Linked DNA regions of Homo sapiens: region 1 is linked to region 2. Evidence: fine-mapped expression QTL. Tissue or cell type: lung. Region 2 holds a variant in brackets; the other region holds the start of a gene. All regions are shown on one strand. Distances are from middle to middle. Region 1 holds the start of DTX1 (deltex E3 ubiquitin ligase 1). Region 2 overlaps DTX1 (deltex E3 ubiquitin ligase 1).

What was found.
Region 1: DTX1 starts here. The variant in region 2 is fine-mapped to the expression of DTX1 in lung (TOPMed, PIP 0.95).

Annotation. Positions count from the first base shown.
Region 1 is chr12:113,052,981-113,061,309 of GRCh38, forward strand. It overlaps DTX1 (deltex E3 ubiquitin ligase 1), which reads left to right and starts at 3,750. Exons shown (of 10, transcript NM_004416.3): 1 at 3,750-3,964; 2 at 4,469-5,471. The coding sequence starts at 5,213. It also overlaps the pseudogene RPS15AP32. RefSeq lists an enhancer at 4,988-5,776.
Region 2 is chr12:113,081,196-113,089,524 of GRCh38, forward strand. All of the region lies in intron 3 of DTX1 (deltex E3 ubiquitin ligase 1), which reads left to right. Among named protein-coding and RNA genes, the nearest start is that of DTX1, 29 kb to the left of the region's middle. RefSeq lists enhancers at 1,507-1,566, 1,597-1,706 and a silencer at 5,629-5,718. The variant T/C (reference allele first, on the strand shown) is at 3,774.

The DNA.
Region 1 (8,329 bases), 28 kb before region 2:
ACCAAGCGCTTTCCCACCTCTGGGCCTTTGCACATCCCTGTTTCCTCTGATTTAATCATTCCCCCTCCTACCCCACTCAGCCACATTAAGACCTATGAATCCTTCAGGGAGTGGCTGAAACATCAACTCCTCTGAAAAGCCCTCCCTGATTCCTTAGACCTGATAAGACCCCTGTTAGATGTCCTCACGATATCCTGTACTTTTCCCTCATAGTCTTTGCAAAAGTTTGGAATTAGACTTTGTGTGATTCTTGATTCATGTCCGACTTCCTCACTAGACTCTGAGACCCAGGAGGGCAGGGACCATGCTGCTGGTGTCAGCTCTCTATCTCAGCACGTAGCCCAGTGCCTGGCACATAGGAGGGCATCTGGTATTTTTTGGATGAATGGATGGATGGATGGATGGATGAATAAGTGGATAAGAGGAAGGAAGGGGCCGGGTGCGGTGACTCATGCCTGTAATCCCAGCACTTCGGGAGGCCAAGGCAGGTGGATCATGAGGTCAGGAGATCAAGACCATCCTGGCCAACATGGTGAAACCCCATCTCTACTAAAAATATAAAAATTAGCTGGGCGTGGTGGCACGTGCCTCTAATTGCAGCTACTTGGGAGGCTGAGGCAGGAGAATCACTTGAACCAGGGAGTCAGAGGTTTCAGTGAGCTGAGATTGCGCCACTGTGCTCCAGCCTGGTGACAGAGCAAGATTCCATCTTAAAAAAATAAAAATAAAAAGAGGAAGGAAGGAAGGAAGGGAGAGATGGAGGAAGGGAAGCAAGGAAGGTGGGAAATTTCATACATGAATGTATAGATGAATGGATGAATAAATGGATAGATGGATTGATGGATGGATGATGGGTGGGTGGGTGTATGGATGAATGGATGATGGATGAGTGGGTGGATGGGTGAATGACTGGATGGATGGGTGGGTGGGTGGGTGGGTGGGTGGATGGATGGGTGGAATGGATGGATGGAGGATGGGTGGATAGATGAATGGATAGACGGGTGGATGGATAAGTGGATGGTGGATGGCAGAACAAAAAAAATGAGTTGGTCTCTTTCTGCCATCTTTCTGAGCTGCTATAATGGTGCATGTGAACGTCCTGGCCAGTGTTCTCAATAGCATCAACATGCTGAGAAGAGAAGCAAATACCAGGTTGTTTTAGGTTGTGTTCCAAAATCATCATCTAGTTTCTAAGTGTGATGATGAAGTTTAGTTTACATCAGTGAATTTGCAATCATCAATAATCACAGAGCTAGAAAAATCACTGTGGACCTCACAGGCAGGTTAAACAAGTGTACAGTGACAAGCCCCAGTTTGATGTGCAACTCAAAGATCTAGAAAAATGGTACCCCTATCCCCTTTGGTTTCATTGTCCTGACAACCTCAGCTGGTATCAGGGATTGCAAGGAAGCAAGACAAAAATACACAGGAGGGAAAATCCTGGGATTGTTTTTCTAGGGATGTAATAAATTCATATGAATAAAATGCCTCAATGGACCAAAAAAAAAAAAACAGTTCATGATTGATTGCTTTTGCTTTTGTCCTATTGACTTCCCCATTGGTATCTGAGCCATCCCTCCCATGAATTGTGGGCTCCTTGGTGGCCAAATTCCTTCCCTCTCCTTGGAATTCTTTTCTCCCCAAGTTCCCTGGGAGCAGAGTGTTGCATTCCCAGATGTTCCAAACCCAGTTGAGAGGGGCCATTAAGGGCCACTCTGCACCAGATCCTCAGCTGGGTGCCATCCAGTAGTCACTCAACAAACACAGAGGCAGCATGGTGCTATGGGAGGTGCAAAAGCATTTGGGACTCAGACCCTAGCTCTGCCACTTACTCCTTGTGGGAACTTGGGTAAGCTACTTAGCCTTTCTGAGCTTCAGGAGGTTTTTTGTTTCCTTGTGTAAAATGAGGACAACATTACCTTCCTTGTGGGGCAGTTATGAAGAGTAGTAAGTATTATTTAAGTGCCTGGCACATAATAGGCACTCAGTAAATGACACCCTTATGTAATGGGGCACCAGCCACACCACACCAAGATGAATATGATGGCTATCTCACTCTAGCAGGGACAGATTTCATTTAAGAGGCTAATTGTGATACAGGGTGTCATGTCAAGGTATGGGCAAAGGAACACAGAGGAAGATGGGGTGAATTCAGGAAAGGCTTCCTGGAGGAGGTGACATTTAATCAGACCTTAAATAGCATTCGACAGGAAGTCCAGAGACACGAGTTCTTCTTTCCAATTTGCTGCTAAATCACCATGCGACCTTGAGCCAATCTCTTCTCCACTGTGGGATCCCCAGATCCTTCTACAACATAAGCTGGTTGAGCACCTGCTCTGAATCCGTTCAGTCACAGTCTCCTGTGAGAAGAATCTGCTGACAGCCAGAGCCCTTCTTCCCAGACATACAAGACACACAATGCCTAGACACACAAGTTTGCCTGTAATGGGAGAGGGGGACTTCATGGACCCCAGAAGGCCATCCAGGGACCCTAGGCTAAAATCCCAGAACTCAGTGATCCTGTGGGAGTATCGTCAGACTTGGCCCTGCCCTATGCAAAGCCTCTCTCTTTAGTCTACAGCAGGTGAAAGCAAGCAGAATCATTGACCCAATCTGAAAAAGCCCATCCAACACTGGGCTGCAGGTCAGAGCAGGGGCCTGGGGAGGGGAGGTCCCTCCAGCTGGCCGGAGAGCCAGAGCTGGATTCTGGGAAAGCACCCCTGAGCAGCCTGCCCCTGACCCTGCCTAGTGTATCCCCATCTGCCCCGGGGAGGCAGGCGTGGGCTGCTCTGGGCAGGCGCCCAAACAGGCCACTGACCCCCGTCAGCCACCCAGGCTGGAGTTCCCGGACGCATCCTTCATCTTCCCCAATCTAAACACCCCCAGGCCCCAGGTGGTCCACCCCCCTCCCAGCCAATGTGTGTCTCAGCCGCATCCAGCTTGCTGGAGGACAGGGGGACTGGCCATCCCGTTAACACTTGAGCCGCTGCCATTTCCAGCCTTCCCTTCCATCCAACCAATGCTCACCCACCATTTATTGAGCACCAGTTGTTTGCAGGTGGCTGTGAATGACATGGCAGAGGGCCTGCCCTTCTCTTCCTCCAGGATCTCACCTCCTGGCCAGGGTCCCCTCCCCTGGTCCCACCCCTCTCACCTGGAGCAGGTGGGTGCTTTGGGGGAAGTGGGCTCAGGGCTGGGAACTGGGTACTGGCAGGAGATTCAGATCGGGGTTGGTGTCTGGGCATCGCTCTAAGCTTTTGTGATCCTGGGCCTGGCTCTTACTCTCTCTGGCTTCAGTCTCCTCATCTGTACTCTTCAGATTCCACGGTTCCAACTGAGTCTGAATCAGGCCTTGTCAGCACCCTCCCACCCCCAGGAATAGTTAGAGGAGGAAAGGAGGCTAGCTCTGAATGCTTCAAGATCTTTCTTTAGACAGTCTCTGGATCTTATTCATTCATTCAAGCATTTATTGAGCACCTATTCAGTGCCAGGCCCTGGACTGGGAGACTGGAAATAAAGATGACAAAGATTCAAGCCGGTGACTCCTAAACATCCCACTCCCTGCCTCACGCTCTGCTTGGGGTCAGAAGGCCCCTTGGGGTCTCGGGAGGGCCTGGCCGAGGATTTGGGGCGCCCCGAGACTCGCGTGTCAGCGCCGGTGGCGCTCAGGGCCGAGATCTGTCTCCTCCCCTTCCTCCTCCTCCGCCCCCTCCCCTCTCCCTCCCGGAGCACGGCCGAGGCCTCCTCCCACCCGCGAGATCCCGGCGGCCGCCAGCCGGCTCCTGCGTCCGTCCGTCGGCCGGGCAGTCTGTCCACGCGCGGAAAGCTCGGCGCGGCGGCCGAGGGGCCTGGGAGGGAACGGGCGCGGAGGCGGGACCGCGGCTCCCTCCCACTCCGGGGGGAGCCCAGGAGGCGGCGGTGCTGGAGCGCGAGCCGGAGCCGGAGCCGGAGACGAAGAGAGGCGGTGAGAACGCGGGTGCTTAGGGACCCCACCCCCGGCTCCCGCTGGGGGCCCGCGAGCGGCTCGGGGACGTCTGGGCTGGGGAAGCGGGGCTGTTACCCCCAGGGCGGGAGGCAGAGACGATCCAGCTCCTGGCTTCGCCCCCTCCGCGACGCGACCCCCGAGGGGCCCTGGGCCGCGCCTGCAGCGCCGCGCATCCCCGTGCTTCCCGGCGCACCCCAGCGCACCCGGCATCCCCCCGGCAGGGCGAGGGCCCCGGGGGAAGGGAAGGCTCCGGGAGCCAAGGAGGGCGCCCCCCAGGCGGAGAGTCTCGGAAAACCGCGCCCCCGGCCCCTGCCTTCCCTCCAGGCCTGCCCCAAGGGAAAGCGGGCGGGGCGACCCCGTACGCCCCCCTTGCTGTCCCCCTTCGGTTCCCCATTGTTCTCAGCCGAATGCTCTCCTGGGAAGGGGGGAGGGGGTGCTGCGCTCTCCTCTTAAAGGGCCCTCTCCCCTCTTGTCTCCTGGCAGGTCGCGAGCACGAGTGGGGTGGGGCGTGCCCACGGGCCCCCGCCCCCCTCGTCCCCCTCGTCCCCCAGCCCAGCTCCGGAGCCGCAGTCCAGGCGCGCCGCCCGAGGGTCCACGCCGCACCCCTCCCCCGTGCGTTCTGCGGCCACCCAGGCCTTCCAGGACACCGTGGAGAGGGAACAAGGGGGCAGGGACGCCCCCTTCGGCAGGAGCCGTCGGAGAAGGGGGCCCAGACCGGAGGGAGGCGAGAAGCCCCACTGAAGCCGGGCGCAGGGTCTGGGACGCAGTTGGGAGTGCAAAGGGCTGGCTGAGAGCCGCAGGAGCAGCAGGCTGTGGCCCAGGCCTCCTGGGTGACAGGCCCTGTCTGGCGGGGAAGAGGGACCAAGAGACAACACGGAAGAGGCTGGACCTCGAACAGGGGCGGCTGCCTCACTCCCTACCTGAGCCAGCCGAGGGGGCCAAGGACTTTAGAGCTGTTTCCTCCGGCATAAGAGAGACACTTGCTTTCCAGGGCAGCACCCTTTATCGGAGAAGGCTCTACAGGGAAGGGGTCTTTGCAGCCTGGATGGCCATCCCACATTCCTTTAACGGAGGTCTCTAGGCCTCAGAGAGAACCCAGAGTTAGAAAGGAGGCCAGACGGTCCTTGCTGTCCCCCTGGGGAGAGAGGAAGTTGCCGCCTGCTGCCAGGCCCAGGAGGAGCTGGGCCTGCAATAGTGGGGGACCTGGCCCCTGAGGCAGTGGCGGCCATGTCACGGCCAGGCCACGGTGGGCTGATGCCTGTGAATGGTCTGGGCTTCCCACCGCAGAACGTGGCCCGGGTGGTGGTGTGGGAGTGGCTGAATGAGCACAGCCGCTGGCGGCCCTACACGGCCACCGTGTGCCACCACATTGAGAACGTGCTGAAGGAGGACGCTCGCGGTTCCGTGGTCCTGGGGCAGGTGGACGCCCAGCTTGTGCCCTACATCATCGACCTGCAGTCCATGCACCAGTTTCGCCAGGACACAGGTGAGCAGACACCCACCCCATGCCACCCGCCCCGCCGAGCCATCACTACCTTGCAGCGTAGGATGCTGAAAATCCCAGTAAATCTGCTGATGCCAAATCCCTTCCCCATCTCCCTGCCTCACCTCCAGAAAAACAGGGCAGTCTAACCTTGTCCAGTTTAAGACTTGGATTCCAATGCAGCCTCTGAGCAAGCTGTAGGGCCTTGAGCAAGTTGCATCATCTCTCTGAGCCTCAGTTTCCTCATCTGCAAAATGGGTAGATCAATATCTCTCACAGCTGAGTGAGGATTAAATAAAATTGTGCTCACTGAGCACAGAACCTAGAACAGCAGTAGCATGGGATTGTAGAATAAGGGCTTTACATGCACTTCCTCATTTGATTTTTCCCAAGAATCACAGGCAGTAAGTCTGTGTATTGTTGTATTATTATGAGTCCCATTTTATAGATGAAGAAACCGAGTCTCCCAGAAGCTGAGTGATTTAAACTCAGAGCTGGGATTTAAACCCAGGCGGTTGAGTTCCAGAACCAAAGTTCTTAACTGGTATCCTATACTGGCTCCAAGTGTTGGTTTGTGGGGTGGAGTCGTGCTGGTGGTAATTAATTGGGGATGGGGGGCGTTGGTGGTGTTGATGGTGGGGTGAGGTGGCAATGATGGAGGAGACAGTGTTAGCGGTTGTGTTGGTGGTGACTCAGTGATAGTATTGATGGTGGTGGGGTCTTGGTGACAATGGAGGGATGGATGATGGTGACGTGGCAGTGTTGGTGGTGATGTCAGTGATAGCGTTAACCATGGGATTCAGTGGTGTTGGTGACATTGATAGTTGTGTTGGTGGTGGTGCTGGAAGTGGTGTGATGGGGTGGTGATGATGGAGAAAATGAGAGAATGATGTTGGTGGCAGTCTTCGTGGCCATGTGGTGTGGCTGGTAGCCCTGTGTGTGGCTGTTACTTAGTGGTATTGGTGATCCTGTTGTGGTTGTAATGATGGTGATGTTGATGGTTGCGTTGGTGGTAATGTGATGGCTGATGATGGAGATAAAATCGATGAGGTCCCACTCTCAGGCCTACTCTCTTTTGTTCTGGAGATTTGTCATCGTTGGGGAGATCTCCCTGAGTCATTGCCCGGTGGTATCTGTGACAAGCTCCATGGGCAGTGGGGACTGGTGGGGTCCTGCCGTGCAGAAGCAGCCTAGAAATCCTTGGCATGTTTGACCCCCCAAGGACCAGCTGATGGGGTTTGGGGAAGTTCCTATGAATCCCTGGATGACAGAACCACACGTAATAACCCCAGGCTGGTAGGATGCTCGCTTTCCCTCTAGAGCTGTGCCAACCAATATGTTAGCCACCAACCACATGTGGCTACTTAAATTTACATTAATTAAAACTAAGTAAAATGTAAAATCCAGTTCTTCAGTCTCACTAGCCACACTTCAAGTGCTCATAGCCACATGTGTCTTGTGGTACCTTGTGGGCCAGTGTAGATCCAGAACATTGCATTGTTGCAGAAAGTTCTATTACACCATGCTAGTTAGAAAGGAGGCCAGCCTTTCTAACTAGCACAGTCCAATATAAGTTTCTGCAATGATTGAACTTTCCAATAGTCCGGAACATTGCTAGGTACCCACAGAGTGCTTACCATGTCTGGAAACACAGGCGAATTCATAACAAATGGCTTATTGATGGTACAGATTAGTACATCTATGTTTCCGTAACTCCAGGCATTGACCACCATCACTGATGGTGCCAATTGTTCATGCATTCCATCATATGATTATTTATTGATCTCTGCTGTGTGTCAATTTCTGTGCTAAGCACTGGAGTACAGCAGGGAGCAAGACAAAGTCATCAGTCGAGGTCTTGTGCTGGAGGACCTACACTGAAGGTCCTGGTGTGGTCAGGGAGCAAGCAAACATATCACCACAGAGACAATCAGTGGCAGATCCGAGAGCATGAACTAAACCTGGCCCAGAGGTACTCAGGGAAGGCTAGCCTGAGAAAGTGATGTTTGAACAGAGATCTGAAGAATGAGTGAGGGTGCCAGTGTCCCAGGCAGAGGGCACAGCCAGTGCAAAGGCCCTGGGGTAGGAAGGGGCAGAGGACATTTAAGTCCGTTCTGTTTGGGATGCATCTCCCACCAAGGGGAAGATGGTGCAAGATGGCAGCTGAGCAAGGACCGGATGTACAGGCCTGGACAGCCACGCAAAGAACTTTGAATTTGATCCAGAGAGTAGAAGTCATCATTAGCTCCATGTGCCCATTCTTCCAGAGAGGCACCAAGGACCTGATGGAAGAAGGGGAAGTGTTGCACATTACCCGCCCCATTCTGTTTTCTCCTAGGGGTAGAGGGCAGGGCTGTGAGAGCAGAAGTGGGTAGGTGTCACTCCTTGCTAGGAGGTCTGGTGTTCTGCAGGTTCAGAGCTAATGCTGGGTGTAGAGATCTTCCGGGACCTAGCTGGGTTGGGTATGGGCGGCAGGGTCCTTAGAAGCAGGGACAGACTCCCCACAAGGCTGCCAAGTTGGCAACTTTACCTTTGATCCTCTTATCTTTGGGGGGACCCCCATTTCTATTCCCAGCATCCCCTTATGTTCCCGAGTCCCCAGACTTGCACACTCCCCTTTCATCAGGCCCCATTCTCTCAATAGTACCCCTTTTATGGTTCAGCCTCACTGGATCCCCCAGAAGTTCAGCTCTGGTCACTTCCCCTCTCCCTCTCTCCAGAGCTGTTCACTCCACACCTGCCCCCTGTTTGCCGGAAAAGGGAAAAAAAACACTCATTCCTAAATGGACTCCTGGGAGCCTGCCAGGAACCCCCTCCCACCCCAACCAGAGAGGGAGGAAGGCCTGGAAACCTATTGCGAT
Region 2 (8,329 bases):
AGCTGAGCATGGTGGTACACACCTGTAATCCCAGCTACTGGGAGGATTGCGTGAACCCGGGAGGTGGAGGTTGCAGTGAGCCGAGATCACGCCACTGCACTCCAGCCTGGGTAACAGAGTGAGACTCCGTCTCCAAAAAAATTAAAAAAAGAGAGAGATTTGAAAGCTACTGTTCTAGAGGAGGCTGAAAATTACTCAGCTTTCATGGCCTAGTGTTAATTCTCCAAATATGTGCTGTGGGTGTGTATTCACAGAGCTGAACAAGACAAACAAGGCCTGTGTCCTCCCGGGGCACACAGACAGATGGGGAGACAGACCTACAGCAAGCAAAGAGTAAATGAAGACGATCTCTGGAGTGAGACAGAAGTGCTGGGGAGGTAGTGGGACAGGGTGATGTGGGAATTCAGGGAAAATCCCTCTGAGGAGGTGGCCAGATGTGGAGAACAGCTGATCCATGCAGAGGGAACAGCATGAACAACTTCAAGGGGGCTCGAAGGGCGTGGTGTGTTCAGGGAAGGGCTAGAGGTGTGGGGAGGGCTGGAGTGAGGCGCCAGCAAGAAGGAGAAGGGCACCCCAGGCAGGGCATTGCAGGTGCAAAGGGGCAGAGGTAGGAATGAATCCAGAAGGTTCTGGAGACCACCGGGGGATAGAGGCTCCCTTCTGGAACAGTGGGGGCTGAGATTTTTTACCCCAAATGGGGGTACAAGGCCAGGTTGGGTGGCCTCAGGGAAGCCTGGGCTTGGTGCTGCCATCAGTGGGGAGCTATAGAGTGTGCTTGAGCTCTAGAGGGCTGTAGTGAAAAGGAAGTTTTCTCTTTGGGGGTGCGGATCATTAAACATGTCCTCCTCTGACCTGCCAGAGCTCTGTTGTCTCCAGCCACATGCCGCTCCCCCACAGCCGACATCATTTCTCCTGCCCCTCCCCTTGGGGACTGTTTCTGACCCTCCCTGAGCCCAGACATTGGCCTGGAAAACAGAAGATGTGGGGTGGGGGAAACTTCTCAAGAACTCCCTCATCCCTCCCCACCCACGCAGATGCTGCCCAGCCTCACTCCAGCCCCTCTAACTGATCCTCCCCAGCCAGACAAGCCCGGCTCAAAGTCCCCAACGCTCCATCTCCAAGAAACCCCCCGGGGAAAATCCCTCTGGCTCTCAAGACCCGTGGAGCCTGTTGCTGGGGAAGGGGAGTAGGAGGAAGGAAGATAGGGGTGGCAGACCCTGGCTTCTTCCGCCTAAAGCTTTCCATTGCTGAGACAGCTGAGGCCCAAGTGCAGCCTATGAGGGGAAAGGGATGGAGGTGGGGGGTCTTTGAGGAGCCAGGCAGACAGGTCTACCCACTGTCACTCTCGTCCCCAAACCACCTCCCAGCCCTCCCAACCCTGGTCTCTTTGTTTCTGTGTCTTTGTTTTTTGTTTTTAGAGACAGAGCCTCGCTCTTATTGCCCAGGCTGGAGTACAGTGGCGCAATCACAGCTCCTGGCAGCCTGAAACTTCTGGGCTCAAGAAATCCTCCTGATTCAGCCTCCCAAGTAGGTGGGACTACAGGCACGCACCACCACACCCAGCTAATTTTTTAAAATTTTTTGTAGGGACAGGATCTCACTATGTTGCCCAGGCTGGTCTCAAACTCCTGGCCTCAAGCATCCGCCTGCCTCAGCCTCCAAAAGTGCTGGGAATTATAGGCGTGAGCCACAGCGACTGGCCTGTCTCTATGACTTTAAGTCTGTATTAGTTTGCTGGGGCAGTGGTAACAAAGTAACAGCTTAAACCACAGAAATGTATTCTCTCTTTCACATTCTTGAGACTAGAAGTCCGAGATCACGGTGTCACAGGGTAGTTTCCTTCTGAGGCCTCTCTCCTGGGCTTGTAGATTGCATCTTTTACCTGTGTCCTCATATGGTCTTCCCTCTGTACCTGTCTGTGTCTTAATCTTCTCTTCTTAGAAGGACATCAGTCCTATTGGATTAGGGCCCATCCTAGTGACCTCATTTTATCTTAATTACCTCTTTAAAGACCCCGTCTCTAAATACAGTCACATTCTGAGGTCCTGAGGCTTAAGGTTTCAACACATGACTTCTTTGGGGCACAGTTCAGCCCATAACAATGTGTCTGTGTGTCTCTCCTTTTATAATTTACCAATACTTTTTTTTTTGAGACCGTCTTGCTCTGTTACCCAGGCTGGAGTGCAGTGGTGCAATCTTGGCTCACTGCAACCTCCACCTCCCAGGTTCAAGTGATTCTCCTGCCTCAGCCTCCCAAGTAGTGGAGATTACAGACACCTGCCACCATGACCGGCTATTTTTTGTATTTTTAGTAGAGACGGAGTTTTGGCATGTTGGTCAGGCTGGTCTCGAACTCCTGACCTCAAGTGATCCACCCACCTCGGCCTCCCGAAATTCTGGGATTACAGGCATGAGCCACTGCGCCCGGCCAATTTGCCAATAATTTTAATGGCAAAAACCACCATTTCTTTTGCACCAAACAATATCTCTGTGTGTCTTGGTCTTTTTCAGTCTTTCCATATCTCTTTGTAGCTCTGTGTCTCTCTCTCTCTTTCTCTGTCTTCTGCCTTTTCCTCTTAGTCACTCTCTTTCCTTCCCTGGCTTCCTTCTGTCCACCCTCCTTCTCTCCCCTCCTGGACCCAAACAGATCCAGAGCCCTTTACAGGTTGGGTGACCTTGGACCCACTTGAGGCTTGGCCTCTCTAGCCTCAGTCTCCCCATCTGTCAGACAGAGCTAAAACCACCACCTCTCACATGGGCAGACTCAGCAAGGATCAGCTTGCAAGGGAGGTGTGAACTCTGCAGAGATCTTCAATGTCATTCTCACCTCCAACCTCATCTCAGCCCTGGACGGGTAACAGCGAAGGAGGCCCAGAGAGGGGGATTGGCTCATCTAGGGTCACCCAGCCAGTGGGGGCAGAGTATCCACCTGGCCAGGGTTTTTTCCACTTGCCCCTGTAACAGACAGGGCGGGGAGCCAGCTGGCAGCCTGGGCCTGGGGGACCTGCGGGGGTGGGGAAGATCCGCCCTGTCCCCTGAGGGGTCAGTGTCCAGTGCGTTGGAACACAGCTGTGGAGCAGAGGAACCACACTCAGAGTTTCCACCCCACGTGGTGGGTGGGAGGACAGTGATAGCTGCGGGCCTATTTCCATTTATCGAGCGCTCCCTATGTCCCAGGCTCTCAATTTCATGGCTTTTTTGTGTGTGTGAGACAGGGTCTCACTCCGTCACCCAGGCTGGAGTGCAGTGGCACAATTATAGCTCACTGCAACCTCGACCTCCTGGGCTCAAGCAATCCTCCTGCCTCAGCCTCCTAAGTAGCTGAGACTAAAGGTATGCACCACCATGCCCGGCCAATTTTTTATTTTTGTAGAGATGGGCGTCTCACTATGTTGCCCAGGCTAGTCTCAAATTCCTGGGCTCAAGTGATCCTCTCGCCTTGGCCTCCCAAAGCACTGGGATTACTGGCATGAACCACTGTGTCTGGCCATTTACAGGCATGTCTCTCTTAATTCTCACAGATACTCAATGTGGCAGGTTCTATAATCCCCATTTTTCAAATGAGGAAACTGAGGCTCCAGAAGACTAAGACATTTGCACAAGGTAACACAATTAGGACTCAGATTCAAAAACCCAAGTTGACCAGCATATTGGGGATGCCCCATCTCCAGCCAGCCTGTACTGTTTTGGATCATGGTCCCAGAAGCCCCACCCTGATTCCTGTGTGACCCTGCCTGAGCTCATCTTCCTCTCTGGTCTTCAGTTTTTGCATC[T/C]GTGAAATGGGACTGGCAACACAGGCCCACATAGTCCATCATGAAGCCAGATGTCAAAGCACTTGGATTTCTCAGGCCCGTACCCTTTTTTTTTTTTTTTAGATGGAGTCTCACTTTGTTGTCCAGGCTGGAGTGCAGTGGCGAGATCTCCACTCACTGCAACCTCCGCCTCCCAGGCTCAAGCAATACTTGTACCTCAGCCTCCTGAGTATCTGGGACTACAGGCGCACGCCACCAACCCGGCTAATTTTTTATATTTTTTGTAGAGGTGGGGTTTCACCATGTTTGCCAGGTTGGTCTCCAACTCCTGACCTCAAGCAATCCACCCACCTTAGCCTCCCAAAGTGCTGGGATTACAGGCGTGAGCCACAGTGCCCAGCCAGGCCTGCTCCCATTTTAAATCCACCCTTGTCCCTCCCATCTCTATCAGATTTGTACAACATTGCCAAGCTGATAATTCCTAAAGAGACGTCATTTAAGTTTCCGTACCCTTGGTTCTTAGTTGAACCTGAGAACTTTTTCCTGTTTACTGGCCATGAGTGGTTCCTTCTTTTGCCAATTACTTGTGTATTTCTTTGGCTTATCCTTCCCTGGAGCTGTTTATTGCTTCCTTATTAATTTGCAAGTGTTCTTCCTGCATTAAGGGCATTAACCCTTTGTCTCCCATCTTTTCTGTAGTTTGCTGTTTCTTTTTCCTTTATAGCATATGTTCATCTGTTTTTTAATTAATTCATTCATATTTATTGAATAACTTCTGTGTGGCAGGCACTGTTTGGGGCCCTGGGGACACAGCAGTGAACTAAACAGACAGTCCTTGCTCTCTTGGAGCTCACATTCTAGTGGGAGACAAACACGAAACAGAATAAATTAATTGTAGAATATGGTAGAAAGTAGTAACTGCTACAGAGGAAAAATATAGGAGAGAAAGGATGTAGGGAGTGATGAGAAGAAAAGGCCTCATGGAGAAGGTAATACCTTCTTGAGCAAAGGTGGAAGGAGGTTAAAAAGCAAGGTATGGTCCAGGCACTGTGGCTCACACCTGTAATCCCAGCACTTTGGGAGGCTAAGGTGGGAGGATCACTTGAGCCCAGGAATTTGAGACCAGCCTGGACAACATAGTGAGACTCCACCTTTACAAAATTTTTTTAAATTAGCTGGGTGCGGTGGTGCGTGCCTGTAGTCCCAGCTACACAGGAGGCTGAGGTGGGAGGATCCCTTGAGCCCAGGTTGCAGTGAGCCAAGATCGAGCCACTGCACTCCAGCCTGGGTGGCAGAGCAAAACCCTGTATCAAGAAAAAAAAAAAAAAGCAAAAGAACTGGGGGAAGAGCATTCCAACATGCCAGACAGCAGAACAGCATGTGCAAAGGCCCTGAGGCAGAGTGGGTCTGGGGTGCCTGAGAAGGCCAGTGTGGTTGGAGAGGCTCAGGGCAATCGGTGGGAAAGAAGTAAGAGAGGAAAAGGCGCCAGGTCACACAGGGTCTGGAAGGTTGCGGTTAGGACTTTGGCTTTTGCTCTGCATGAGAAGGGAACCAGCAGGGCTGTGTGTTGGGAGAGACGGGTGGGACTGTTTTAACAGGTTCACTCTGAATGCTGAGCATAGACCGCAGTGGGGCTGAAGCAGGAGGCCAAGGGCAAAGGGACTTTGTTGTGGTGGGTGTGTTTTAGGGTTTTCCTTCCTTTTTTTTCCTTTTTTCTTTAAATTTCTTGCAGTGATTTTATGCTTTTATTTTTAAAAAATCCACATTTTCTTTCTCCAGATCTTCCATAAGTATTACATTTCAGGGGTTTGAAAATGTTAAAGTACTGACAGGTACACTGTGAAGTCAAGGACCCCACCAGGCCCCTGGCTGCCCACCCTCCCCCACTTTTCTGCCCCGCTAGCCACTGGTGTGCAGTGACTGTCACCCCGCCTCACCGCTGCTGCAAGGTCAAACCAAACACTCCCCCCACCCTGCCCCCCACCTGAAGCACTTCCTGCCCTGCTCCCTGGGAGACCAAACCACACACACTCCTGTCTGCACGTGGCTGCCCCGGGCCGTGGGAACAGCCGGTCCTGCCCTCCCCTCCCCTACCTGACCGGTCCTCCCTGCCCCCAACCATCTCCTCCCGTTCCTTCCCCCGCAGAGAGCTGGGCAGGCTGGAGGACCGGGAGGGTTGAAGAGTGACCCCCGCAGCCCCCATACCTCTAGATAAATCTGAGCCTCCAATACCACTCACACCTCAAAATGTCTCCCGAGGGGACTTTTACATCCTTTAATCTCTAGAACATGGAAGTAAGGGGTCTAGAAGACAGAAGTAAGGGGTCCCATTTCACAGAGGGGACACTGAAGCCCAGAGAAGCTCAGAGGTTTGTCTAGGCAGACGGAGGTGCTGGGGTAAGGAAAGGGGAAGTGAGGACCCCAGACAGCAGCTGAGGAGGAGTCCATGGGCACCTGGTCCCCCGGGCTTGCAGCGATGTCCTTCAAGTCTCTGCAGTGGGGGTGGCGGCAGGGACTTGGCCCCAGGCTGTGTTCCCCAGGACTGTGGGGGGAGGAGGGGGAGAAGGCAGCTATGAGGCAGAGACAGCCCTGAAAGTGGGGAAAGGTGACAGGCTCACACCCCTAGAAAGGAGAAAGGGAGAGGGTGGGGGGTCCCTAAAGCACTGTTCAACTTCCTTCTCCCCATAAAGTGACATCCTCACTTCTGCCCCCTCCTCACCCACTTGGCCCCAAATGACTGAGTCCTGAGGCTCCTGGGGCTCTTTGGGGTCTGCTGGGTAAGTGTGAGGTATCCTGAAGGGGGCCAAGGCCAATGGGGGACCTGGAAACTAGCATCAGAGAAAGTAACAAGTCTAGGCCTGCTGGGGGTGGGAGGGGAGAGATAAGGAGACCAGACTTTGGAGGAGGGAGGGGACTTGGCTGCCCTAAAGGGAGGGTCAGTTGTCAGTGTTTCGGGATCCTGGACCCCTCTAGGGGACAGAGAGAGGTGGCCAAAGCAGGCCAATGGATCCAGTTAGACAGCCCTGATCTACCCTGCCCAGGCCTGAGCCAGCTCCAGGATCCAGGTCAAAGACTTCAGCCCACCTGTAGAGCACAGAGGGCTCTCTAGGCTGGCTCAACTCCAGATGGCTCCACAGACCAACCTGGCAGGGTCAGCCCTGGCCCCTGACTCGGAAACTCCAGGACCCAGTGCCAGCTGCACCACCAACCAGCTGGGTGACCTTAGTGAAGTCATTTCCCTTCTCTGGGCTTCAGTCCCATCATCTGCAAAATAAATGACAAATAGAGTTCATCTCATGTGCCATCTCTGCTCCAGGGCAGTGACTTCCTGGAGCACTGTGTTGAGGAGGATTCTGAAGTTGCATCTTGGCTTAGCGGTAAGGCATGCCGAAATTGATTAGTAATGCCTGCTGTGGGTGCTAGGAGGACAGTAGTGGTATGCACTCATATATTTGACATTCCTGCTCTAACTTTGTCTGGCAGAAGAGGCGGCGTGGACCAGATCATACAGGGCCTGGTCATGCTTAAAGAGGGATAACATTAGGAGATATATCTAATGTAAATGATGAGTTAATGGGCGCAGCACACCAGCATGGCACATGTATACATATTTAACAAACCTGCACGTTGTGCACATGTACCCTAGAACTTAAAGTATAATTTTAAAAAAAGACTATAATGTCAGGTCGTGATTAGTGCTATGAAAAAAGAATTCAGTAAGGTAAGGACAAAGATGGGCTTTTTAAAAATAAAGTGGTTGCGGCCAGGCACAGTGGCTTATGCCTGTAAACCCAGCACTTTGGGAGGTCGAGGAGGGAGGACTACTTGAGCCCAGGAGGTCAGGTCCAGACCAGCCTGGGCAACACAGCGAGGCCCTGTCTCCTCAAAAGTTTTGTTGTTGTTGTTGTTGTTGTTGTTTAAGCTGGGTGTGGTGGTGTGTGCCAGTAGTCCCAGCTACTCAAGAGGCTGAGGTGGGAAGATCGCTTGAGCCCAGGAGTTCAAGACTGCAGTAAGCAATGGTTAAGCCACTGCACTCTAGCCAGGACAACAGAGCAAGATCTTGTCTATAAATAAATAACTAAATAAAGTGGTCGGGAAGGTGTCTCAGATAAGCTGACATTTGAGCAGAGACCTGTGCTAAGTGAGGGAGTGTGCCATGAGGATATCTGGGAAGAGCACCTTGGGAAAGGGTCAGCAAGTGCAAAGGCCCTGGGGTGGGAGTGTGCCTGGCATGCTTGAGAAAGAGCAGAGAGACCAGGGTGGCTGGAGTGGAGTGGGAGAGGGGTGAACACATAGGAAATGAGGTTCAGAGGGTAGATGGGGGCCAGATCAGGAGGCCAGGTGTTAACTGTGAGCAAAGTGGGAGCTGCAGGAGGAGTGAGAGCAGAGGACAGATGGGATCTGATTTGGGACTGGGAAAGGCAGAGAGGCTTGCATGGCAGTGGGGCCCATGCCTGCCTTCTGGTCAGAGTAGATTTCGGGGAGGGCCTGAGGGACTCCTCAGGTCCTGTGCCAGCCTGGGCCCCCAAGAAGGCAGAGCTAGGGGTGAAGGCTGGCTCCCCTTCCGGGAGGCCCGC